Linked DNA regions of Homo sapiens. The protein of the gene in region 1 purifies or fractionates together with the protein of each later gene. This does not show direct contact. Each region holds a gene or a part of one and is shown in the gene's direction. Other genes may lie near its edges.

The links.
Region 2: the proteins of PFKL (region 1) and ABCF2 fractionate together in Homo sapiens (co-fractionation; one large-scale study listed by BioGRID). This does not show direct contact.
Region 3: the proteins of PFKL (region 1) and TFR2 purify together in Homo sapiens (affinity purification with mass spectrometry, with the first as the bait; one large-scale study listed by BioGRID). This does not show direct contact.
Region 4: the proteins of PFKL (region 1) and MAP3K3 purify together in Homo sapiens (tandem affinity purification; one large-scale study listed by IntAct). This does not show direct contact.

What each region holds. Positions count from the first base shown.
Region 1 is NC_000021.9:44,315,420-44,321,735, forward strand, and holds part of PFKL (ATP-dependent 6-phosphofructokinase, liver type), read left to right. Parts: intron 1-824; coding exon 825-920; intron 921-1,012; coding exon 1,013-1,105; intron 1,106-3,050; coding exon 3,051-3,176; intron 3,177-3,931; coding exon 3,932-3,996; intron 3,997-4,664; coding exon 4,665-4,728; intron 4,729-6,309; coding exon 6,310-6,316. UniProt on the Homo sapiens protein: Catalyzes the phosphorylation of D-fructose 6-phosphate to fructose 1,6-bisphosphate by ATP, the first committing step of glycolysis.
Region 2 is NC_000007.14:151,220,596-151,226,911, reverse strand, and holds part of ABCF2 (ATP-binding cassette sub-family F member 2), read left to right. Parts: intron 1-411; 5' UTR 412-453; coding exon 454-607; intron 608-1,923; coding exon 1,924-2,136; intron 2,137-2,797; coding exon 2,798-2,980; intron 2,981-3,062; coding exon 3,063-3,234; intron 3,235-4,295; coding exon 4,296-4,391; intron 4,392-5,231; coding exon 5,232-5,334; intron 5,335-6,316. Other genes in the region: ABCF2-H2BK1 (ABCF2-H2B protein), read left to right, coding at 454-607, 1,924-2,136, 2,798-2,980, 3,063-3,234, 4,296-4,391, 5,232-5,334.
Region 3 is NC_000007.14:100,628,049-100,632,614, reverse strand, and holds part of TFR2 (transferrin receptor protein 2), read left to right. Parts: intron 1-416; coding exon 417-533; intron 534-669; coding exon 670-809; intron 810-1,389; exon of another isoform or gene 1,390-1,459; intron 1,460-1,562; coding exon 1,563-1,726; intron 1,727-3,242; coding exon 3,243-3,362; intron 3,363-4,308; coding exon 4,309-4,391; intron 4,392-4,478; coding exon 4,479-4,542; intron 4,543-4,566. UniProt on the Homo sapiens protein: Mediates cellular uptake of transferrin-bound iron in a non-iron dependent manner. May be involved in iron metabolism, hepatocyte function and erythrocyte differentiation.
Region 4 is NC_000017.11:63,630,909-63,637,224, forward strand, and holds part of MAP3K3 (mitogen-activated protein kinase kinase kinase 3), read left to right. Parts: intron 1-1,772; coding exon 1,773-1,894; intron 1,895-3,800; coding exon of another isoform or gene 3,801-3,893; intron 3,894-6,316. UniProt on the Homo sapiens protein: Component of a protein kinase signal transduction cascade. Mediates activation of the NF-kappa-B, AP1 and DDIT3 transcriptional regulators.

The sequences.
Region 1 (6,316 bases):
TTCCGGGTGTCTGACCTCACCTGCACTGGCGCCACCTCCTCCAGGTAGCCCTCCACTCCCACCACACCCGGGCCCTGTCTGAGCTGCTCCAACCCTGTCCCTGTAGGAGGCATTGTGGCCCGTGGTGGGCAAACATGGGGCTTGTGGCTCAGAGCGAGTCCCACAAATGTTGGCTGGGTCATTGAAGTGGACGGCCGAAAAGCTCTTTCAGTTCCCAGAGAGCTGGGCCGCGGCTGGTGTGTGGTGCTGAGGCAGCAGCCTGAGGCTGGCAGAGGGGATGGTGTGTCCTATGTGCACCAGTGTGGACCCACAGTGGCTTCAGGGTGCAGGGTGTCCGGGGAGCCCTGGCTGGTGCCAGCGATGCGGGGCCCCTGGTTATAAGGATGAGCAGATGGAAGCTCACAGGGGCCCCAGGTACCTGGCCCAGGCTAGCCCGGGCAGGCCCCTCTGCCCTGTGCCCCGTGGAGCTGCAGCCCTGTGCGTCTTCCCGCCTGGAAGGCTTCACCAGACACAAGGGCCCAGCCCCAGCTGTGTGTGTGCTGGGCCCAGCCCCGAGGGCCCCCTTCCTCCCCTGCTGCCCTTCCCAGGCTTTCGGGCAGAGCCCTCTTGTTCACCGCCTCCAGGAGGGCGGGGCGTCCTAGTGGGCCCAGCCTCATCTCTGCCCTCGCGCTCCAGGCCTGCTTTCCTCCTGCTGGGTGGGGATTGTGCCCTGGCCCATGTGGGTTGGGAATGGTGGCCCCAGGGAGGGCTCCTGGCACCCGGGGGCTGTGTCCGGGGCAGGTTTCCCTGCCTGGCAGCTGAGCCCTGTCGTGTCTTTGACCCAGACTCGGAGCCGTGGGTCCCGACTGAACATCATCATCATCGCTGAGGGTGCCATTGACCGCAACGGGAAGCCCATCTCGTCCAGCTACGTGAAGGACGTGCGTGTGGGCCTGGGGGTGGCCACTGGGCACCTGCTCCTCTAGGCCGTGTGGGCTGGGGCTCAGGGCTGGTCCTTCCCACTGTCCTGCAGCTGGTGGTTCAGAGGCTGGGCTTCGACACCCGTGTAACTGTGCTGGGCCACGTGCAGCGGGGAGGGACGCCCTCTGCCTTCGACCGGATCCTGGTAAGTGGCCATCACCCTGCCCTGCGTACGTGCGTGGGTAAGCGTGGTGTGTGGGTGTGGGTGTGGGCAGTGTGCACGCGAGCATGGCACGTGCACTGTGTCCATGTGGCTGTGGGTGAGTGTCCGTGTCTGTGTGTGGGGGTGTATGTGTGGGGGACGCGTGGTCCTTGTGGGTGTGTCTGTGTGTGTCTGGTCCGTGTGGGTGTGTGTGGCAGTGTGTGTGGGTGTGTGTCAGTGTGGGTGTGTGTGGGTGTTCCCTCAAGCTGTTGCTCCTCCTGGGGGAGACTGAGGCCTGGCTTCTCCGTTCCCCTGCAGGTATAGGGAACTCAGACCTGGGGACCATGGGAGGCCCCCCACCAGCCTGTGCCTCCTGGCTGTTCTGACCCCCACCCTCTGCCAGCCCAACGTGGCAGCAGTCAGGGCCAGGGGCAGGCCCTGGGAGAGGGGCTGGGTGGGCAGAGGGTGGTGCCCATGGCGCCTGTGGCGTCACAGTCTGGGAGGCTGGTGCTGGGAGGGAGCATTCGGGGTCTGGCCTGGCCTCGCCGTCCTTGGTCCTGATCACCGCTGGGTCTCACTTTGTCCTCTGCAAAATGGGAATGAAGTTGGAGCCAAATGGAGTGGGTCTGGGGCCAGGAAGGCACCATGGTAGGCAAAATGCCTGTGTATGAGGGTGGTCACCCTCTCAGGCAGGGCCAGAGACTGTCAGACAGGTGGGACTTGTGCTGAGGGAGACCAGGTGACTGCGCCCAGCCCTGTGACTGCACCTGGCCCTGTGACTCGTGTGCTGAGCCGAGCATTCCCAGGGAACCCACACAGCTGGACGAGGGCCACTCTATAGAGGGGAGGCTTCCTCAGAGAGGGGCCCCGCCGACCTAGCCAGGCAGCTGCTGTCCCCTCTGTGAGGCCTCAGGCTCACTCTGAAGAGCCTCTTGAGGGGCCGGGGACATCAGGGCAAGCCAGCCGCTGCTGAGCCTGGGGTGATGGAAATGCCGCTGCTGTGACCGGGCCAGCCATGCACTCCCAGCCTGCAGGCTGCTGGGTTTTCCAGCCAGTGTCTTGGATGCCTGATGCCGGGTGTGAAACAAAGGACAGTTGATCGCCCCTAGCCGCGGCTGTCACCCAGAGCGTCAGCATTCTTGTGCTCCCTGAGCCCGTATTCCCACTGGGTGCTGCGAAGGGGCCAGGGGACCCTAGCACGTGCAGTGGTAACCTGCACTTTTCCAAGGAGCCTCATCCTGCATGGGGGGTGTCTCCGAGGCTGCTCCCTAAACAGCGTCCTGGAGAGACTGCCCAGAATAAGGTGCCGCCTGTGCCTCACTTGCAAGATGAAAAAACCTGTGTGGAACACGGAGGGCTGTCTGTGGCCCCGGGGGTCCAGCTGCTGGGCTTCTACAGGGCTGGCCACTGGTGGTCATGGGACGGCCACGGCAACCGCAGGCCTGGCTTTCTTGTCCACTGTGGCCGGTTCCCGGGGTGGGGCTGGGGCCTGCCTTTGCAGTGTGTCCCTGGGGGGCAGCTCCTGGATGTGTCCTCTGCCCAGCCCTTTGGCCGGTGCGGACACACACCAGGGAAGTCACGACATGAGGGCCTCCACGGGAGGATCCATCGCAGCGGATGGGGCCCTGGGGACCTGGCTCCCGCCCTTGCCTTGCGCGCCTAGCGATGGCAGCGAGCGACGGTGGGTGGGTCGCATTGCATGGCACCCTGCAGCCAGCAGTGCAGGCTGGGCCTTCCAGCAGGGCAGCGAGGACTCTGTGAAATGGTGTCTGGTGTGCCGTCGTGAATGCTGGTCAGACACGTTTCCATCTCTGATGCCACCTGTTCTGGAAGCTTCCGTCAGCGTGGGGGGCTCTGGAAGCTGGGGTTTGCACATCTACAGAGGATGGGCATGTGGCTTGGGGTAGAGGGACCAAGTGGGTGTGCCAGCCTGAACCCTTCCCCACAGAGCAGCAAGATGGGCATGGAGGCGGTGATGGCGCTGCTGGAAGCCACGCCTGACACGCCGGCCTGCGTGGTCACCCTCTCGGGGAACCAGTCAGTGCGGCTGCCCCTCATGGAGTGCGTGCAGATGGTAAGCCCTGGGCCCCCCCCATCAGAACCGCCTGGCCCCTCTCCCCAGTCCCCACTCACAGGCCCCACTGCTCTCTGGGGGCCCCAGCACTGTGAGCACCGGAGGGCAGGGCCTCGTGGCTGGCCCAGGGCATCCCAGGTCTCCAGGGAGGGGAGGGATGTGAGCACATCCCTGGGTGGGACGTGGGACCTGGGACGTTCCCCAGGAGGTGTGTCGGAGCTGCAGGGAGCCTGGTGAGCATGGGAAGTCACAGGGGTCCACGGCCACTGAGCTTCTGTAGGCAGTGGTGGGAGTTGGGGTTACGATGGGACGGAGGAGGAGGGGCCAGTGATCAGAGCAGAGCCCTGGGAGGAGCTCAGGCAGGTGATGGGGAACACTGGGGTGGCTGGAGCAGGGACCCCAGGAGAGGAGGTACGGGGAAGGCAGAGGCGAGGGGGCCGGGTGTGGGGGCTGGTCCAGCCCTGGCTCGGTGGGTTTGGAGGCCTGCAACTGGGGCAGAGTGCCCTGCCTGGAGCTGGAGCTGCTGAGAGGTGAGGAGGGCAGCTGGGGGCAGGGTAGGGCCTCCTGGTCTCAGCCAGCCCCAGAAGAGCTGGCCTTGGTGGTGACCGCTGTTCCTAGGGAGAGGCTGCCAGGCCTGGGCCAGGGTCAGGAGATGCCGGCCAGATCTGCCCTCGTCAGGCCCACCAGACAGGGCAGTAGCCATGGGTGTGCGGGCCAGGCTCTCCATAGTCTGTGTTCTGTTTCTCTTCCTTAAGACCAAGGAAGTGCAGAAAGCCATGGATGACAAGAGGTTTGACGAGGCCACCCAGCTCCGTGGTGGGTAAGCCCCCTCAGCAGACCCCTGCACTCTTACATGGCTGGGTCCCGGTGCCAGGCAGCATGTGCTGCAGTGGCGCTATGCACGCCTGGCCTGGGTCATCCTTCTAGGCACCGCGTCTGAAGATCGAGGGAGGAAGGGGCCTGCGGGTGGTACAGGAGGCGGGCTGGGAGGTGTGGTACCACAGGAGACCCTGGGCGGTGGCACGGGCAGGGCCCAGTGCACAGGGATCTGGGCATGGCGAGGGGATGAGAAGCTGTGGATACAAGCCCAGGACATGGGGTGGCCCCGCGGGGGCTGGGAAGGCTGGCAGATGTTGGGTGTGGGTACCACCCCCCTGCAGGCGTCCTGGCGGCCGGGTCAGGCTGGATTGGACGTCTGGGTTCCCATGCGTGCCTCCACCCGCTACCAAGGTGGCCAACCCTCCCTTGAGCTGGATGCCGGCCACGTGCTTTGCTGCACGGGCTGGCGTGGCCTCGTGTTGTGTTGGGGGTCTCGCACCTTCTGTGGAAGGTGCCCTGCCTGGCATGCGCGGTGTCTGCTGCCTCATGGCTGAGCTTCCATCGGGCCGTGTGCCTGTGACCAGCCTCCTGGGCTCTGTCACGGCTGCGCTGTGGCTGTACGCCGTGGCGCTGCAGGGCTGTGCATGGTGTGACCCGAATCCCTTCCAGGAGCTTCGAGAACAACTGGAACATTTACAAGCTCCTCGCCCACCAGAAGCCCCCCAAGGAGAAGGTGAGGCAGGGAGCGGCGCCCACAGAGGGAGGAACGGGCTCAGTTATTCTGCAGCCTCTTCACGCTGGCCCCGTGGCTGGGCCTGCCTGCCCCCACCTTCCCTCCTGCTGGGGTCCGAGCTGTGAGCTGGGAGGGTGGGCCTGACCTCTGCCTGGGCTCAGGCACCACTGTGGCTGGCAGGTCCCGGGTGCTGGGACCCTGGCTGCAGGGCTGGCTGTTGCTTCTCAGTGGTGGATGGAAATGAAGTCAGGCCACAGGCTTAACTCAGGAGAGGAGAAGCCATTGTGTAGAAAATGTCCCCCGGGGCCAGGCTCACACCTGTAATCCCAGCACTTTGGAAGGCTGAGGTGGCCAGTTCACCTGAGGTCAGGAGTTCGAGACCAGCCTGGCCAACATGGTGAAACTCCGTCTCTACTAAAAATACAAAAATTAGCTGGGCGTGGTGGTGGCACATGCCTGTAATCACAGCTACTCAGGAGGCTGAGGCAGGAGAATAGCTTGAACTTGGGAGGTGGAGGGTGCAGTGAGCCGAGATCGTGCCATTGCACTCCAGCCCGGGCGGCAAGAGTGAAACTCTGAAAATAAAATGTTCCCAAACAGCTGAAAACCTCAGGAAATGGGATCTCTCCAAAATAAGGATGAAATGGCTTGTTTCTAAAGTCCTGGGGGACGAGGGTCCTGTAGAGAGAGTCACGGCCAGTGAGGTCCTGGCTCCCAAGCCCCTTGAGCCACAGCCGGAGCTGCAGGCCGGGGCAGACAGCGTGGCCCAGCCTGAGTCTGGTCCTCCCTTCCATGGACATCTTTGGGTGTCCCTGCTGCTCCAGCCTCCTGCTTATCCCCAGAGCTAGTCAGCGGGCTCTACCCTCCGTGGTGGGGCAACCTGGTCTCCACGAACCCAGAACCTGGCAGGGGCGTGACTGGCTTTGTGGGCAGCAGGGCTGGCTCGTACCAGGACCCAGTGGGGCCATGTGGCTATGGAGCCCTTGGGTGTGGCTGCTGCCAAGTGGGATGTGCTGCACGTGACAGGTGCACGCCAGGTTCAGAGCCTCAGCACGGTGGGTGGAGGGGAGGTGGTGGCGGCCGTCACTGGATTCACATGGATGTGGTGGGGTTTTGGGTCCATCAGGTTAAATTAACTGTAGTCCTGATGGGACTGTCTCCATGTCTTTTCCCTTCCCTTAACGTGGCTACTAGAAAACAGGATAGCCAGGGCCCCTTCCTTACTCGTGGCTGTGCACCCCCCACCCTCCCGCCCGCTGCCAGCCCCTTGTGTGGGCACTGACCTGTGTTCCCGCCCGCAAGCCTGGCTTCACAACAGTGCTCGCCCCTTCTGCCTCCTCTGTTGCCTGCGTGCCAGGGGGCCAGGCTTGCACCGTGTCTCTTTTGGTCTTCACCAGAATCTTCTGGAATTAGAACAGATACCGTATTCCCAGGGCAGTTGGGCGGTGTGCTGGGCAGCGTCCAGGCTGCTGGCAGGGCCTGGCCCCTTTTTCCAGAACCTGCCGGCCTGCTGACCTCCTGTGCAGGTTGGGGGTCCCCTCCCCGGCTGTGCCTCACGCTCATCTCCCCTTCTCTCTGAAGTCTAACT
Region 2 (6,316 bases), on another chromosome or scaffold:
GGAGAGGGACGATCGAGAAGAGGCCCGAGACGGACGGGAGGAGGAAGCCCGGAAAGTGAGGCGGCTAGCTGAGTGCGGAGCGCCAAGTTGTAGGGAAACCGGAGACGGAGACCTCCGCTGAGGGGCAGAACCTGGTCCCCAGCCGGAGGCCCTGAAAGAAGGAGCGTTTCCAAAGTGAGGCAGTCCGTGGGGGACTGGTGCCTGTGGGAAGAGATGTTAAGATTAGAAGAGCCGCTGAGAATCGGCATTGGTTTGGGATACCCTGACCAAGTTGGAACAGACGAGGCGGGGGCAGGCCAGGGCATCAGAGGCTTGATGTTGATACGAAGATTCCTGAGAGGGATGGAGCAGGGCCCAGGCATTCTTACTAGTAAGTTTAGGGTTTGGGGGTATCTGTTTGCCTTCCTTCAGGCTCCCTGAAACAACAGTAACCTACCCCTGTGGGTCATCATCATGCCCTCCGACCTGGCCAAGAAGAAGGCAGCCAAAAAGAAGGAGGCTGCCAAAGCTCGACAGCGGCCCAGAAAAGGACATGAAGAAAATGGAGATGTTGTCACAGAACCACAGGTGGCAGAGAAGAATGAGGCCAATGGCAGAGAGACCACAGGTGAATTGAGGGAGGGGTGAGTTGGGGATGGTTGCTAAGACTTAATGCATGCCCCAGCCAGAGTTGGAATCTTGATGCTGGGGGTAGTGGAGAATGTATCTGGTGTCATGCAACTTTTCATGATGAATCAAATCAGTAGAGTTGGAATTCGTGCCACCCTGTCATTGCGCAAGGAAGCCGAAGACGAGGTTCTCACATACTCAGTGGCAAGCGGATGTGAGAGTTGCTGAGCTGCCTTGCTGCTCTATTAGATTGTGAGGAGGGGATCAGTTCCCTGCCCCTTTCTCAGTTTCCATTTCTATGCATGGTGACCAATGTGCCAGGTTCTTTGCTACATTATACAATAAGCTTGTCCTCTCACTGGTGTAGTGGCTCTACCTACAAGAGAGTAACTTATGAGTTGATTTATGGGGTTTTTCCTGGGAGAGAGCTCCCTTTCTGTTATTTATATTTTGGGAAATATTTATTATTTCTCAAGTGCTAGACATGGTGCTATACACTGAGGCACTACCGTCTTCCCTCCAAAAACTTACCGTCTAGACTGGGAAACATGGCCATATGCGGTAAAGACTATTCCAGGCCCTTGGCAGTCCAATCCCAGCCCTCTTCCCTGCCCCCTGAAAACTCCCTAAACAGCCTTCTGCTCCATCCAGACTATTTATTATCTCTTGGATAGTCACCACATCTCTGTCCTTTCACACACTGAATTATAATACCATCATGTTTTTGCTAGCTACATTTGACATTTCTGTCAAGGCCCAGCTCAAGATAATGAAGCGTCTCTCAGTCAAACCTGACCACAGTATTTCCATTCTCTATACCCTTTTGCTGTCTTTTAGTGTTACTTACCTTTTTATGTTGTATCTCCTGTTTCTTTGTCTAAATTGTTTCATCTTTGAGTGCAAGGACCCTGTCTTGGGTTTTTTTTATGACTTGCTTCTCAGGTAGACACTAAGTAAATGTTTGAAGAGGAAAGGAGAATTAGTCTGCAAGTTGTAACAGATAGGCGTTCAGAAAAGGGGGACTTAGAAAGCAATTAGAAAGAGCAATAAAGTCAGGCTGTGGGGAAGTTTTATTCCTGGCCACAGTAGTGGAGGACAGAAGTTAAGAGTGATGGGAGTAAGTAAACAGATATGGGAGGACAAAACAAAGGAAAGCAGGGTGTCGGGGCAGCTCTGTGTCATTGTGCACTCTGTAAAGTTTGGGAAACATCTGAGTGCTCAGCAGGATTGGAGCCTGGTCCTTCAGGACGTTGACCTTTGTGGAGAGCCGAGTCTGTCTCACGCCATCTTCCCAAACTGCTTTTCTATCCGCAGAAGTAGATTTGCTGACCAAGGAGCTAGAGGACTTTGAGATGAAGAAAGCTGCTGCTCGAGCTGTCACTGGCGTCCTGGCCTCTCACCCCAACAGTACTGATGTTCACATCATCAACCTCTCACTTACCTTTCATGGTCAAGAGCTGCTCAGTGACACCAAACTGGAATTAAACTCAGGCCGTCGTTATGGCCTCATTGGTTTAAATGGAATTGGTGAGGCCTTGGAAGGGGAGGTGGGAGGTATCTCTCCTTAGCTCATCTGTCACTCACAAGCATTTATTTAGCATCAACTGTGTTCAGAGCAAAGCATTTAGAATAGGGATGGGAGACCAGATTATGTCCAGGGGAAAGGAACTAGCAACGCAGAGCAGTATGTGTTATGTACAGGTTGAGTATCCCTTATCTGAAATGCTTGGAACCAGAAGTGTTTCGGATCTTGGAATATTTGCATTATACTTACCGGCTGAGCATCCCTAATCCAAAAACCTGAAATTCTCCAGTGAGCATTTCCTTTAAGCATCATGTGAGCACTTAAAAGGTTTTGGATTTTGGAGCATTTTGGATTTTCAGATTAGGGTGCGTCCACCCTGTACCACATGATTAGTTACAGCAGGTGCTGGAGAAGTTGGTCAGGGGCGTGTGAAGCTGTGGTAAGTGAAAAAAGCTTCAGATAAGGGGTGGGGCAAGAATTGGAGGAAAGTTAGAAAGGAATCCCAAGAATGGGGGCTGGCAAGATTTGAACGAATGAAGGGAAGAAAGGTCCTCAAAAAAAAAAAAATGGATGAGGTCCCAGTTTGACTGGGGTGGAAGAACTAGTGGTGAAGAGGGATAGGGGAGTTCACTGTACCAAGCGTCTGCTGCTCTCCCCTCTCAGGAAAGTCCATGCTGCTCTCTGCTATTGGGAAGCGTGAAGTGCCCATCCCTGAGCACATCGACATCTACCATCTGACTCGAGAGATGCCCCCTAGTGACAAGACACCCTTGCATTGTGTGATGGAAGTCGACACAGAGCGGGCCATGCTGGAGAAAGAGGCAGAGCGGCTGGCTCATGAGGATGGTAGGGCTCCAGACCTGGGCATAGGGGTGGGCGTCCTCCCAGAAAGGCCCCCAGGAGCCTCATGGCCATACACTGTCCACAGCGGAGTGTGAGAAGCTCATGGAGCTCTACGAGCGCCTGGAGGAGCTGGATGCCGACAAGGCAGAGATGAGGGCCTCGCGGATCTTGCATGGACTGGGTTTCACACCTGCCATGCAGCGCAAGAAGCTAAAAGACTTCAGTGGGGGCTGGAGGATGAGGGTTGCCCTTGCCAGGTGAGTCCCTCCCTCCTTCCCTACCCCCATAACTCCCCCATCTCTCCAGTGTTTAGTGTTCACTCCAGTGGAACTGTTTGGAACAGGAGTCAGTGGTAAGTGTCAAATGAGACATGGACATCTGCAGTGTGGAGGGGGTTGTTGTGTATGGGCTAGAGAGAGAGCTTCCTGGCTGAAGTGGTAGAGTGACTCAGTTTTCTATTGGATTCTTAGCACCCAGCACAGAGTTTAGAGATCCTAGGGGTAGTCCTAGGTAAAACGGTGGAGTAGGTCTGTTTCTGTCCTCCCACCAGGATTCCCTTTCCACCCTTTTTGTACTCTAGTCCTGCTAATTCCAGCTGTAAAGATAAAATGTTAGACGGCTATTATGATAGCTGTCGTTCTTATTCTCTTGTGGCCTGGACTCAAAGTGAGTTTCCATAGACCAGCATTCCCCCAATAATCCCCCCAGAGTCACTAAACAGGTAATTCCTTGCCCCATCATTCTCTGTGAAGGGAATTTATAAGACTTGATATACTTCTCTAGAAAGTTGCCTGCATGTGCCTTAGAGTATAAGCACAGTGGTTCCACATGCTAGCAAGGATTAGCTGCCTCCGGTTCACCCAAGGAGCTTTTAAAAACACAGATTTCTGGTTTGGGAACCAGAGCTTTAGAGTCTATCCCTCGCTAGACTCTGGCCACCCCACAAGATAGGTCTATCTTCAGACCTTCAGATAGGTCTAATTTGTTTTAGCAGTTTATTTCCTCTGTATTTTTTTGTCTTCTCCGTAGTCTCCAACTTCAGTGCACAAGGCTCATAAACTCATAAAGACTTCTACAGCCTTGCCTCGAACTGTCCTTATATGCTTCTGAGCCCCGTATTCTACTCTTCAATCTCTTCTCTTCGACTCTTGTTTCTGTCCTGCTTCTCCTTTTCCCTCTGAGGTATAGAGCCTAAAATTGATTTCAAGACTCAAGCCAGGAGCCTACTCAGAATTGCATGTAGCAGGCAAGTTTGTCCCGTCCTGTGTCACATCCATTATAATTCTGAGGTGCTTCTGTCTCCTTTACCGTCCTTCAGAGCCCTCTTTATTCGGCCCTTCATGCTGCTCCTGGATGAGCCTACCAACCACCTGGACCTAGATGCTTGCGTGTGGTTGGAAGAAGAACTAAAAACGTAAGAGGGTGGAATGGGGGATGTGAGCGGGCAGGTCCCAAAGGGGGAATCTAGAAAATGGATGCCCAGAAACTGCACTGATGTTAGAGCGGTGAGAAAGGAACTGAAGGAAGGACAGAGTTCACTTTCTTGGACAAGCAGTGAGCACCTTTAGGGCTGTTGAAGGCTGGCCTTTTATTTTGATTGTTTTTCTTTAGTTTGAAATTTATGAGCTTTTTTTTTTAAAAAAAATCCTTGTTGGTTTTGTCCATATTTCAAATTCAAGATCTTAATTAAAGATATATTTTTTTTCTTAATTGTATAAAGCTAAAAAGAGGTCTTCCATCTAAGATCATGATGCAGTGACAAAGGAAAATATAGCCAATATGGTCATGGTCCTACAGCTAAAGAACTGAATAAGCTGGAATATTGTACCAATTTTAAAAGAAGGCTTTTAGTGGTACGATGACTTAGTACCTTCTTTCAAAAAGTAAAGCATTTTGTTTTTTATTGTGTCTGTACCAGTTCTTCCCACCCACAGTTTTGGATACATTCGTGGGTGTATTTGTGTACATACACACTTCTGGTTACTATCACTGTTACTACCGTCTCCATCCCATTCTGTTGAAAATTAGAACAGAAGATTGAGGAAACTCAGGCTGTCTCGCCACACTGAAAGGCGTCCAAATACCCTTACAGTTAGATTGTCGAGTCGTGGCTTAGGTGCTTGCTAACAGCCAGGAATTGGACAACACATCTAAAAGGTGCTTAGGGATGAGGATGGGCCTGACTTTCAGTTCACCTGTTGTCAGCTAGCTCCCATGGTTGAGCTCTTCACTAATTGGTTCTTTGGCTTTACAGTTTTAAGCGCATCTTGGTCCTCGTCTCCCATTCCCAGGATTTTCTGAATGGTGTCTGTACCAATATCATTCACATGCACAACAAGAAACTGAAGTATTATACGGTGAGTGGGCCTCGGCTTCTTCTGGTAATCTCTGTGCATACCAATTCTCTGAAATTCTCTTTAAAAAAAAAAAAAAAGGCTGGTGTGGTGGCTCATGCCTGTAATCCCAGCACTTTGGGAGGCCGAGGTGGGTGGGTCACTTGAGGTCAGGAGTTTGAGACCAGCCTGGCCAATATGGTGAAACCCTGTCTCTACTAAAAATACAAAAAAATTAGCCAGGCGTGGTGGCAGGTGCCTGTAGTCCCAGCTACTTGGGAAGCTGAGGCAGGAGAATCACTTGAACCCTGGAGGCGGAGGTTGCAGTGAGCTGAGATCACACCACTGCACTCCAGCCTGGGTGACAGAGCAAGACTCCATCTCAAAAAAAAAAAAAAAGCAGACCTATCTATTAGCTCCTTTCTACCTATTGCTATAAAAAGATATGGACAAGGAGTCCTACCACCTGTTTTATTTTAATCCCAAAGTCATTGCTTTCAGGCCATAGGCCATGGATTGGCAGCCTGTGCACACAAGGTGTATGTTTGCCTTGTGGCAAAGAAGTTGACTTTTCACGGTGACCAGGCAGGCCCTGCTCTCATCTGCCTTGCCTCTTTTTTTCTGGAAACAGAATCTCATTCCGTCACCCAGGCTGGCATGATCTCAGCTCACTGCAACCTCTACTTCCTGAATTCAAGCGATTCTTGTACCTCAGCCTTCTGAGTAGCTGGGACTACAGGCATGCACTGCCATGTCTGGCTAGTTTTTGTATTTTTAGTAGAGACGGGATTTTGCCATGTTGGCCAGGCTGGTCTTGAACTCTTGACTTCAGGTGATCTGCCCTCCTCAGCCTCCCAAAGTGCTGGGATAACAGGCATGAGCCACCACACGAGGCCTCCCTCTGCCTTCTTGAATGCCTTCTTAATTCTGCTTCACTGGAGTCTACACATTTACCCCACCTCCCATGACCACAGGAGAATGGGGGTCAGGATCTCAATAGCCCACT
Region 3 (4,566 bases), on another chromosome or scaffold:
TCGCGCCACTGCACTCCAGCCTGGGCAAGAGAGACTCTGTCTCAAAAAGAAAAAAAAAAAAAAGAGAGAGAAACAGAGAAGGGAGGGAGGGAGGGAGGAAGGAAGGAAGGAAAATGTTGGCTGGTCTGGGAATTGAATCAGAAGGAAAAAAGAAAATGTTGGCTGGGAACAAATTGGGTGTTGGGGGAAATCAGATGGGGAAGGGAACAGAAACATGGGGTACCCTGGAGCCCGGTGGGGTTTGAGGGCTGCCTAGGAGCTGCTGAGGTTGGGAAGACACAGGCCAGGTAGTGCCCCCACATCCTCTCCGTGGGATGGACAGTTGCAAGCAAAGGCCTTGCCATTTCCTGGTTTCTCCTGCCCTTATGAATCGGGTTTTTTTCTGGGAGGAGTCCTCTAGTCACCTTCCTCCCCAGGTGACCAATGCTCAGGACTTCGGGGCTCAAGGAGTGCTCATATACCCAGAGCCAGCGGACTTCTCCCAGGACCCACCCAAGCCAAGCCTGTCCAGCCAGCAGGCAGTGTATGGACATGTGAGTCTGGGGAGGCTGGTCGTGCTGTTCCCAGGTCCCGAGGCCACACCTTCTTGCTCAGAATAGGGCTGGCATGTTTTTCGTTTTTCCTGGAAGCCCAGCTCGCAGCTTTGCGTGGGCACCCCTTTCCCTGCAGGTGCACCTGGGAACTGGAGACCCCTACACACCTGGCTTCCCTTCCTTCAATCAAACCCAGTTCCCTCCAGTTGCATCATCAGGCCTTCCCAGCATCCCAGCCCAGCCCATCAGTGCAGACATTGCCTCCCGCCTGCTGAGGTGAGGGGAGTGTTGGGGACCAGAAGAGGAGGAAGCAGAGAGAGGAAGGCTGCAGCGAGGCCACAGGGTGATTGTGGGTGAACTAGAAAAAGGTGACTCTTGTTTAAGCCTGCAGTGAGCCATGACTACACCACTGCACTCCAGCCTGGGAGACAGAGAGACCCTGACCTTTTTTTTTTTTTGAGATGGAGTCTTGCTCTGTCTTCCAGGCTGGAGTGCAGTGGTGCAATCTTGGCTCACTGCAACCTCCACCTCCCGGGTTCAAGTGATTCTTCTGCCTCAGACTCCAGAGTATCTAGGATTACAGGTGCCCCCCCACCACGCCCGGCTAATTTTTGTATTTTTAGTAGAGGGTTTCACCATGTTGGCCAGACTGGTCTCGAACTCCTGACCTAGTGATCCGCCCATCTCGGCCTCCCAAAATGCTGGGATTACAGGTGTGAGCCACCATGCCTGGCCGGGACCCTGACTCTTTAAAAAAAAAAAAAAAAAAAAAAAAAGTGACTCTTCTGGATGGACACAGCCTTTCTCCAGGGTCTACTGTCTGGCAACTAAAGTTCCCACTGGATTGCACACCTACCTCAGCTGAGAACCATCCAAGGCAGCCCTGACTGCACTGCCCTACCCAGGCAGCGTCCAGAGGCAGCGATCTGGAGCCAGAAAGGGTGGGAGGGAAAGAAATAAGGAAAAGAGTGATTTGGACTCTTCTGGGTCTCTCTACAACTTCCCCCTTTCTGCCTTCCTCCTCTCCAGGAAGCTCAAAGGCCCTGTGGCCCCCCAAGAATGGCAGGGGAGCCTCCTAGGCTCCCCTTATCACCTGGGCCCCGGGCCACGACTGCGGCTAGTGGTCAACAATCACAGGACCTCCACCCCCATCAACAACATCTTCGGCTGCATCGAAGGCCGCTCAGAGCCAGGTATGCTGTGTGTCCAGTATCACTCACAGCTGGTGGTGGGCTGGGGGAATTTCTGCCCATACACCCTGGCAAGATAGGGGGCTGGTGCAGGAGGCCCCAAGAGGGGACAGGAGTGGTGCCCAGAGGAGGGAAGCTGGCAAGTTGAGGCTGAACTGGGTCTGATGGTGGCAGCAGTGAACAGACCTCACCTTCCAGCCTGTCTAGTGATGGAATGGGGGTTGTTGCCCAGTAGTGAGCTCCCCAGCACTGGAAGTGAGTAAGCCTAAGTTGGATGATGTTGTAATAGAAACTCAAGCATGGGCCGGGTGTGGTGGCTCACGCCTGTAATCCCAGCACTTTGGGAGGCCCAGGCAGGTGGATCACTTGAGGTCAGGAGTTTGAGACCAGCTTGGCTAACATGGTGAAACCCCGTCTCTACTAAAAATACAAACATTAGCTGGGCCCGGTGGCATGCATCTGTAATTCCAGCTATTCCGGAGGCTCGGACAGGAGAATCACTTGAACCCAGGAGGTGGAGGCTGCTGTGAGCCGAGATTGTGCCATTGCACTCCAGCCTGGGCAACAGAGCAAGACTTTGTCTCAAGAAAAAGAAAAAAAAGAGAAAGAAAGAAAGAGAGAAAGAGAAAGAAAAAAAGAAAGAAAGAGAGAGAGAGAAAGGAAGGAAGGAAGGAAGGAAGGAAGGAAGACTCAAGCATGAAAGAAAGATCAGATCAGATTAGATAGAAGCATAGATGGCCCTTTCAAGCATAGCTAGATGTGGATGGCAGTGGAGAATTAAAATAAGTAATTGACAGATGGGGCAACAAAGCCAAGACTTCACAAAAAATTTAAAAATAAGAGAAATTGGCTGGGTGCGGTGGCTCACGCCTGTAATCCCAGCACTTTGGAAGGCCGAGGTGGGCGGATCATGAGGTCAGGAGATCGAGACCATCCTGGCTAACATGGTGAAACCCTGTCTACTAAAAATACAAAAAAATTAGCTGGGCATGGTGGCAGGCGCCTGTACTCCCAGCTACTCAGGAGGCTGAGGCAGGAGAATGGCGTGAACCCGGGAGGTGGAGCTTGCCGTGAGCCAAGATCGTGCCACTGCACTCCAGCCTGGGCAACAGAGCGAGACTCCAAAAAATAAATTAAATAAATAAATAAGTAAGTAAGTAAAAGAAATTAGCCGAGCATGGTGGCACACATCTGTGGTCCCAGCTACTTGGGAGGCTCAGGCAGGAGGATGGCTTGAGCCAGGGAGTTTGAAGCTGCAGTGAGCTATGATCACACCACTGCACACTCCAGCCTGGGTGACAGAAACCTTGTAAGTCCAGAATGACCTCAGGCACCCAGCTGAAGGAGCACACCATCCAGGAAGGGCCAAGTGGGGAGGGGCGCCCTCTTTAGGGACTGGAGGGACTGCAGGGCTAGGGTTGCCGGAATTGTGATGGGCTGAGAGACACAGGCAGATGGAGGATGCCCCCAGGGTGCAGGGTGCAGTGTCAGAAGTGGGTCCCAAACATCCCCTCCCCAGATCACTACGTTGTCATCGGGGCCCAGAGGGATGCATGGGGCCCAGGAGCAGCTAAATCCGCTGTGGGGACGGCTATACTCCTGGAGCTGGTGCGGACCTTTTCCTCCATGGTGAGCAACGGTAAGGTCAGGGCCAGGGCCTGGGCCTGGGCTAGGCAGCGGTGGGCCTGTGGCCCGAGGAGGATAGGGCAGAGAGGCAGTGAGGGACACAGACTGGCCAGTGGTCACTTGGACCTCGGCATCCACATTGTACCTGAGTGGCCCTGGGCCAGTCACTTCACCTCTATTTCGTCACCTAAAAATGAAAGTGAGGCCGGGTGCGGTAGCTCACGCCTGTAGTCCCAGCACTTTGGGAGGCCGAGGCAGATGGATCACCTGAGGTCAGGAGTTTGAGACCAGCCTAGCCAACATGGTGAAACCCTCTACTAAAAATACAAAAATTAGCCAGGCGTGGTGGAGGGCGCCTGTAATCCCAGCTACTAGGGAGGCTGAGGCAGGAGAATCGCTTGAACCTGGGAGGCGGAGTTTGCAGTAAGCCGAGATCGCACCACTGCACTCCAGCCTGGGCAACAGAATGAGCCTCCTTCTAAAAAAAAGAAAGAAAAGAAAAGAAAAAAAGTGACATGAATGATAATCATAGTCCATGGGTCTGTGTCAAGATTAAGCATGTTGGGCTGGACGTGATGGCTCATGCCTGTAATCCCAGCACTTTGGGAGGCCAACACAGGAGAATCGCTGGAGACCAGGAATTCAAAACCAGCCTGGGCAACATAGGGAGACTGCATCTCTACAAAAGTTTTTTAAAAATTGGCTGGACTTAGTGGTGCATGCCTGTAATCCCAGCTACTTGGGAGGCTGAGGCAAGAGGATGACTTGAACCTGAGAGGTCAAGGCTACATTGAGCCATGATTGCACCACTGCACTCCAGCCTGGGCGAGAGAGTGAGATCCTGTCTCAGAGAGAGAGACAGAGAAACAGAGACCCTGGGGGACCAGGACAGAAGAAGACAAGGGGAGGGTCTTTGCTTGGCCCCTGCTAAGCCTGTCCTCCTTCCCCTCTGTCCCCAGGCTTCCGGCCCCGCAGAAGTCTCCTCTTCATCAGCTGGGACGGTGGTGACTTTGGAAGCGTGGGCTCCACGGAGTGGCTAGAGGTGATACGGGGTCCCGGGCAGGTCGTTAGGCATTGGGGAGAGGTGGGGGTGGGGGGTTCCCACTCCACACTGGTCACCCACCCACAGGGCTACCTCAGCGTGCTGCACCTCAAAGCCGTAGTGTACGTGAGCCTGGACAACGCAGTGCTGGGTGAGCTGGGGCAGTGCCACCACC
Region 4 (6,316 bases), on another chromosome or scaffold:
TAGGCAACTTTGTCCTTTTCTGTACCTCGTCAGAGGGCATATAGGGCACCAGAGCAGATTTCGTCTAGGAAGAGGGGAGAGGCAAATAAGGTGAGGGGCCAGGCACGGTGGCTTATGTCTGTAATCCCAGCATTTTGGGAGGCTAAGGAGGGAGGATCGCTTGAGCTCAGGTGTTTGAAATCAGCCTGGGCAACATGGTGAAACCCTCGCTCAATAAAAAATACAAAAATTAGCAGGGCATGGTGGTGTGCACCTGTAGTCCCAGCTACTCTGGAGGCTGAGGTGGAGGATTGTTTGAGCCTGGGGGTGGAGGAGGCTGCAGTGAGCTGTGATTGCACCACTGCACTCTAGCCTGGGCAACAGAGTGAAACCCTGTTTCAGTCAGTCAGTCAATCAGTTAATCAGTAGTGGGAGAAGAGACTTGAGCAGTTTTACTTCCTACATTTCATGCTGTTCGTTTCTTTCCACAGGGTATTAGAATATTTCCAAGGGACAGTGATAAAGGGTAGAAGATAGGCACTCTCTTTGGGTGGAATCTTTTGTATTTGCTTCTTTTAAGGTGTGCCCCAAGTCCCCAAATGGCTCAGTTGTCACCAAAGCAAGTGTAACAACTCATCCCTCATGTTCCCTTCACGATCAACAGATTTATTCATTTTCAATCTCCAAATGCTATTTGAATGGGCAAAGATCTCTTAAAGGACCTGGGAAAAATTTGTACAACATGGAATTGGACTGGTTTGTGTTCTGGGTTTTGGCCAGTTGTTTTCAATGTATGAGAACTCTAGTACTCCATGCTATTTCAAGAAAAGGGGATTAAAAGTAATGCCAGTAAGGTGGAGACAATGCATTGCTTGGTCAGCTTAGGGAGGAAAAACAATAGAACTACCCTTTGACTTCCCCATGGGAAGTAGTAGGCCTATAAACTTGTAAAGAGTTGTGGGGGTTGCTGGTGGTGGCGGCATTCAAATGCTAGGCTTGTAAAACAACTTCTGTTCAAAGCAGTTACCTGAGGCCCTTATTTGGTACCTTTTAAAGTGTGCTCTCCTCCTTATGATGCTTTAAGAATAAGTCTGGGACTGACACTGTGCCATAATCCTCTCTCTATGGATTCATCTTTTCATTCAGTACCATATTACATTGTACTGTGTTCTTCACTTCAATTTTTCATCTATTTTTCCTGGTTAAGTTTCTCTGGCACTGGACCAACTGCCCTGTTTGAGCGTGTCCCTTCCCTGCAATGAATTGGTAAATATTGCTGCAGGAAATCTGATTGGAGGGCTATTAAGAAACCATTAAAGGCCAGGCATGGTGGCCCACACCTGTATGTAATCTTAGCACTTTGGGAGGCCGAGGCAGGAGGATCACTGGAGTCCAGGAGTTGGAGACCAGCCTGGGCAACATGGGGAGACCCCGTCTCTACAAAAAATAAAAAAATCATCCAGGCATGGTGGTGCATGCCTGTGTTCCCAGCTACTCAGGAGGCTGATGTGGGAAGGTCACTTGAGCCCCAGAGTTGGAGGCTGCAGTGAGCTATGATCACGCCACTGCACTCCAGCCTGAGTGACAGAGCAAGACCTTGTCTCGAAGAAAAAAAAGAATCCATTAAAATTCAAATTGCCATAGTCTGACCTTTTGGGCTGCATCTGATTATAGTTACAGGGTCTGTCATTTTACCTGGGCAGAACTCCCTGAGTATTAGTTATACAGTTTGTGAAAGAGCTTTGCTGGTCTGTATTTAAGTGTCTTAGTCCATGTGCTCTCTTTCATTGCAGACGAACAGGAGGCATTGAACTCAATCATGAACGATCTGGTGGCCCTCCAGATGAACCGACGTCACCGGATGCCTGGATATGAGACCATGAAGAACAAAGACACAGGTCACTCAAATAGGCAGGTGTGTGTGACCCTGGCAGAGCTAAGTGAGATTTGTTGGGGAGGGGTTTTCAAATGGGAAATATACGAAAAGCCAAGGAGACTACATTACCAGGGTTGAATGCTTTTGACCCCTTCCTTTCACAGTCTGTTAAATGGGAAGTAATACATACCAACCAGGTATGGTTAAATGGTAAGTGATATTGGGAGGCCGAGGCAGGCGGATCACCTGAAGTCAGTAGTTTGAGACCAGCCTGGCCAACATGGTGAAACCCTGTCCCTACTAAAAAACACAAAATTAGCCAGGTGTGGTGGTCCATGCCTGTAGTCCCAGCTACTCAGGAAGCTGAGACAGGAGAATCGCTTGAACCTGGAAGGCAAAGGCTGCAGTGAGCCGAGATAGCACCACTGCACTCCAGCCTGGGCAAGACAGAGTGAAACTCTGTCTCAAAAAAAAAAAAAAAGTTATATATGCCATGCAGTTATGGATCTATGATTTGGAGTCTTAAAGCCTTGTGTAAGCATTTCATCTGTTATGGGGACAGTATTCATATTCGTTTTTCCCCTTTACTGATATTTGGCAAATATTTAATTCAGATTCATGATCCCTAAGTCAGAAGGTTTTTAGCTACCTTACAGTATATAGTCAGGAAAAACTAATTAATTTGGTATTAGCTTATGTAAAATATAATTAAGAAGGTAAATTTATTAATTAAAATGTCACCTAGTATATTCTGAAGGCAATAATGAGTGATTTTGTTATTACTGTTTACAGTTATTTTACCTTATTAACCTTATTGATAGTGCCTGTTTTATTGAGAGTTGTATGCTTCTTTAGGAAAACATTGCCTATTTTCCTTAACATTTAAACTTGTGTGTCATTGACAATCTTCTTCTCACCTGTAGTGCCACTTACCTGTTTCCTGGGTACTTTGTTCTGCAGAGAGGAGTGAATGATGGGGAGCTTTCCTACCTAGTGGGTATCCAGTGCTGTGTCAGCTAGCTATATTGGGCATGTTTGATGAAAATTTGTGTATGACATTCTCCCTTTTGGTTCTGTTTGTTATCAGCTAACCTCCTTTCTTCTCATTTGCACCTTGTTTACCAATTCTTCAGAATTGGTTCCTAGAGATAGTATAAGGCCCTAAAACTTTTCCTGTCTGTGGTCTGCTAGATAGAGCCTTCCAGAGTATTTCCTGCCTTTAGGAATCCTAGGGACCCCAAGGGAAGAGGAGTCCTTTTGTTTCATGTTAAAACAGAAGGATTAGTTTAAAAAGCTGCTTTTGTTGTTGTTACCTTATAGTACTGGAGGTATAAACAGATAAGGGCCCATTCTTACACTATTTTCATATGTTATTCAGTCTGACTGTGTGAGTTCTCCCTTGCTATAACTCATTTGTATTCAAAGCCACTTTTCGAAGGAGCATTTTACCAGAAGTGAGTCCCCTCCCCCTTGCTTGAGCCTAATGACCTCACTTTCCTTCCTGTCTTCCTATGTAGTGTGTGCTTGCTAACATTGCTCCAGTTAGCTGATCTTTCTCCAGACTGGACTATTAGCATGAATATCAGTTAGTGGGTGAAAAGGGGAAGCTTTCTTGAATTGGAAGGCCCAAAAGGACGAGGCTGGGAAAAGGAGGGGCGGAATGGTCACTGATGGTTCCTTGAAGGAGGATTCCTTTTTAGGACTCCTTCTGCTTAGAGCCTAAAAGCCATGATGAGGGAAGTCTTGATCTTTTGCTGTGCCTGCTGCTGCGCTGGTAGAGTGAAGTCAGTGGTTATGAAGGCAGAAGCCTAAAAAGGATTGACTGTTAGGAAGTAATCTTAACAAGAGGTACTAGATCTTTGGATCCATGATTTACTTCAATGTTGTCAAACTTATGTTGCACGAAGGATACAAATTATTAACCTCAGTTTTTTTGTTTTTAAAGAAAAAACACAACAGCAGCAGCTCAGCCCTTCTGAACAGCCCCACAGTAACAACAAGCTCATGTGCAGGGGCCAGTGAGAAAAAGAAATTTTTGGTAAGGATCCAGATTACCTGTTAAAGCCAAAATGTACTTTTAAATCTGCTACTCATGCTGCAACAGCAGAATTCACTTCCCAGACAAGTTGTTTTAGTGGATTTGTAAAAAGCATTGGTTACCCGTGACCTGTGTTCAGTGCTTCTAGTCACCATTTCTCACAACAGTATTATTCATAAACAGCCTCTATCAGTGCTGTCCAATAAACCTTCTGTGATGACAGAAATGTTTTATATCTCTGCTGTCCAATGTGGTTTTGTAGCCACTAGCTACATGTGGCTGTTGAGCAACTAAGGAACTAAATTTTAAATTTTATATCATTTTAATTAATTTAGACAGCCACATGTGGCTAGTGGCTATTGTATTGGACAGCATGACTTTATGCACTATGTAAGGGACTGTTGATTTATTGGGCAAGAAATTATGTATATGCTTGGAGATGTGTAGATATTCATTGGTATGTTCATTCCTTACACACGTCATGAGTTTCTGTACATTGTGATAAGCTAATAATGGGAATCCTACCTAAGATTTCTGTTTTAGGAAGAATGTGAAGATGTGGAACTAGAACAGCTGTTTAGAAATTGAAGCTCAAAGTTTTATGTTAATATGGGCAAAAGGGGAAATAAAATGCTAAGATAGCTTTTCCTCTTAATGAAGTCAAGGTTATAGAATGGCCTGTCCTGGGAAGTGTAGCAGATGTTTTGCTTCTGACCAAGAGGGATATTCTTCAGCAAAATTCTGAAAGCAGAAAAAGACAAAGTCTCAGCAAATGCATTTCTAGGAAAGATAGGGTAAGAGGTAGTGCGGGGAAGATGTTGGGGAGAGGTATTTATAGCCTAGTATAATGAAAGGAGCCTGGTGATATTAATAATCATTTAACATCGGATTTTATAATTCACAGAGTTACACATTTATTATTATTATTGTAGTTTTTGTTAGCCTAGGCCTGAGATAGAATGAAACAGTTTTCTTCATTACCAGTTCTTCTGCCAGAAAGTCCATGCTTAGGAAGAGAGAGGAATGAAAGATCAAAACCTAATTTAAATGGTGAAGAGTTGCCAAATTTGGTTAAGAAATGTCTAATTGGATTACAGATTCAAATTACAGAGTCCCAGTTGAAAGAAGCTAAGCATTTTGGCTAGCTGGAAAGGTTGTTTATTCAAGGGTGGAATGGGGCTGGCAGAGGCAAACAGCCTTTCACTATGAGAATGGCAGTGCTGGCTACAAGGCAGAGTCGAGACTGGCACAGCTTCATGGAGCTCAAGCTTGGCCCAGCAAGGAAAGCCAGAGGAGCTGTGGGTTCATTAACAGGATTGTTTGGGTGCCGAGGCCTGGAAGAACTGAAAAATCTAATTTAATATCTCTGCTTAGCAAGACTTGAGACATCCTTTTCCCTAAGTAAACAAGCTTGGTAAGTAATTGAAAAAGAGAATGGATTTGAGAACAAATAGGCAGCTATGGAAGTACATGGGCAGTGAGCTATTAACAATTTTCTAGGAGGTAGATTCTGTATTCTCTGTATTCTAGGAGTACAGAGAATACTGTACACTAGGAGCATTTGCTGTATTCTCCCTTTTGTATATTGGGTCTCTGGAAGCCTACAGCGTGGTTAGAGCTGACTGAATATTCTTAGATGTGTGGCACATCCTACGTGTGGCTGGGTCCTATGGATAGTTTTGCAGGCCATGATGTGCAGTGTCCCTTTAGCAGTCATTAACTCACAGTGAGTTATCAATGGGTGTTAGTTCTCTGTGGGTCTGACAACTTAGTATAGTGAAAAGAGTGCTGGCCTGTGGCTGAACATGCTGGAGAAGAGCTTGCCTGGCCACAGGGACACAGCCACGCAGATCCAGCATGTGTCTCCCATGTGCCAAGTGGAGCCCCCAGCCAAGAAGGCAGCCACACTAGCAGAGGGTGACAAGGACAATGACATTGACCTGTTTGTCAGCGACAATGAGGAGGAAGACAAGGAGGCAGCCCGGCTGTGGGAGAAGTGGCTGAGGTGGTATGTGGAGAAGAAGGCCAAGAAGACTGCGTTGGTGGTCAAGTCCTCCATCCCGCTGGACATCAAGCCTTGGGACAATGAGACCAATATAGCCCAATTGGAGGCCTGTATGCGCTTCATCCAGCTGGACGGGCTGGTCTAGGGGGGCCTCCAAGCTGGTGCCCATGGGCTACGGTATCCGGAAGCTGCAGATTCAGTGTGTGGTGGGGGACGACAAGGTGGGGACAAACTTTCTGGAAGAGGAGATTACCAAGTTTGAGAGCGTGTGTAGAGTGTCGATGTTGCAGCTTTCAACAAGGTCTGAAGCCTTAGAGTGTGTGTGCGTGCATGCGCACGTGTGCAAGTGTGTGAGGCCCTGCCACTATTAAAAACTGAGACCAACCAAAAAAAAAAAAAAAAAAAGAGTACTGGCCTA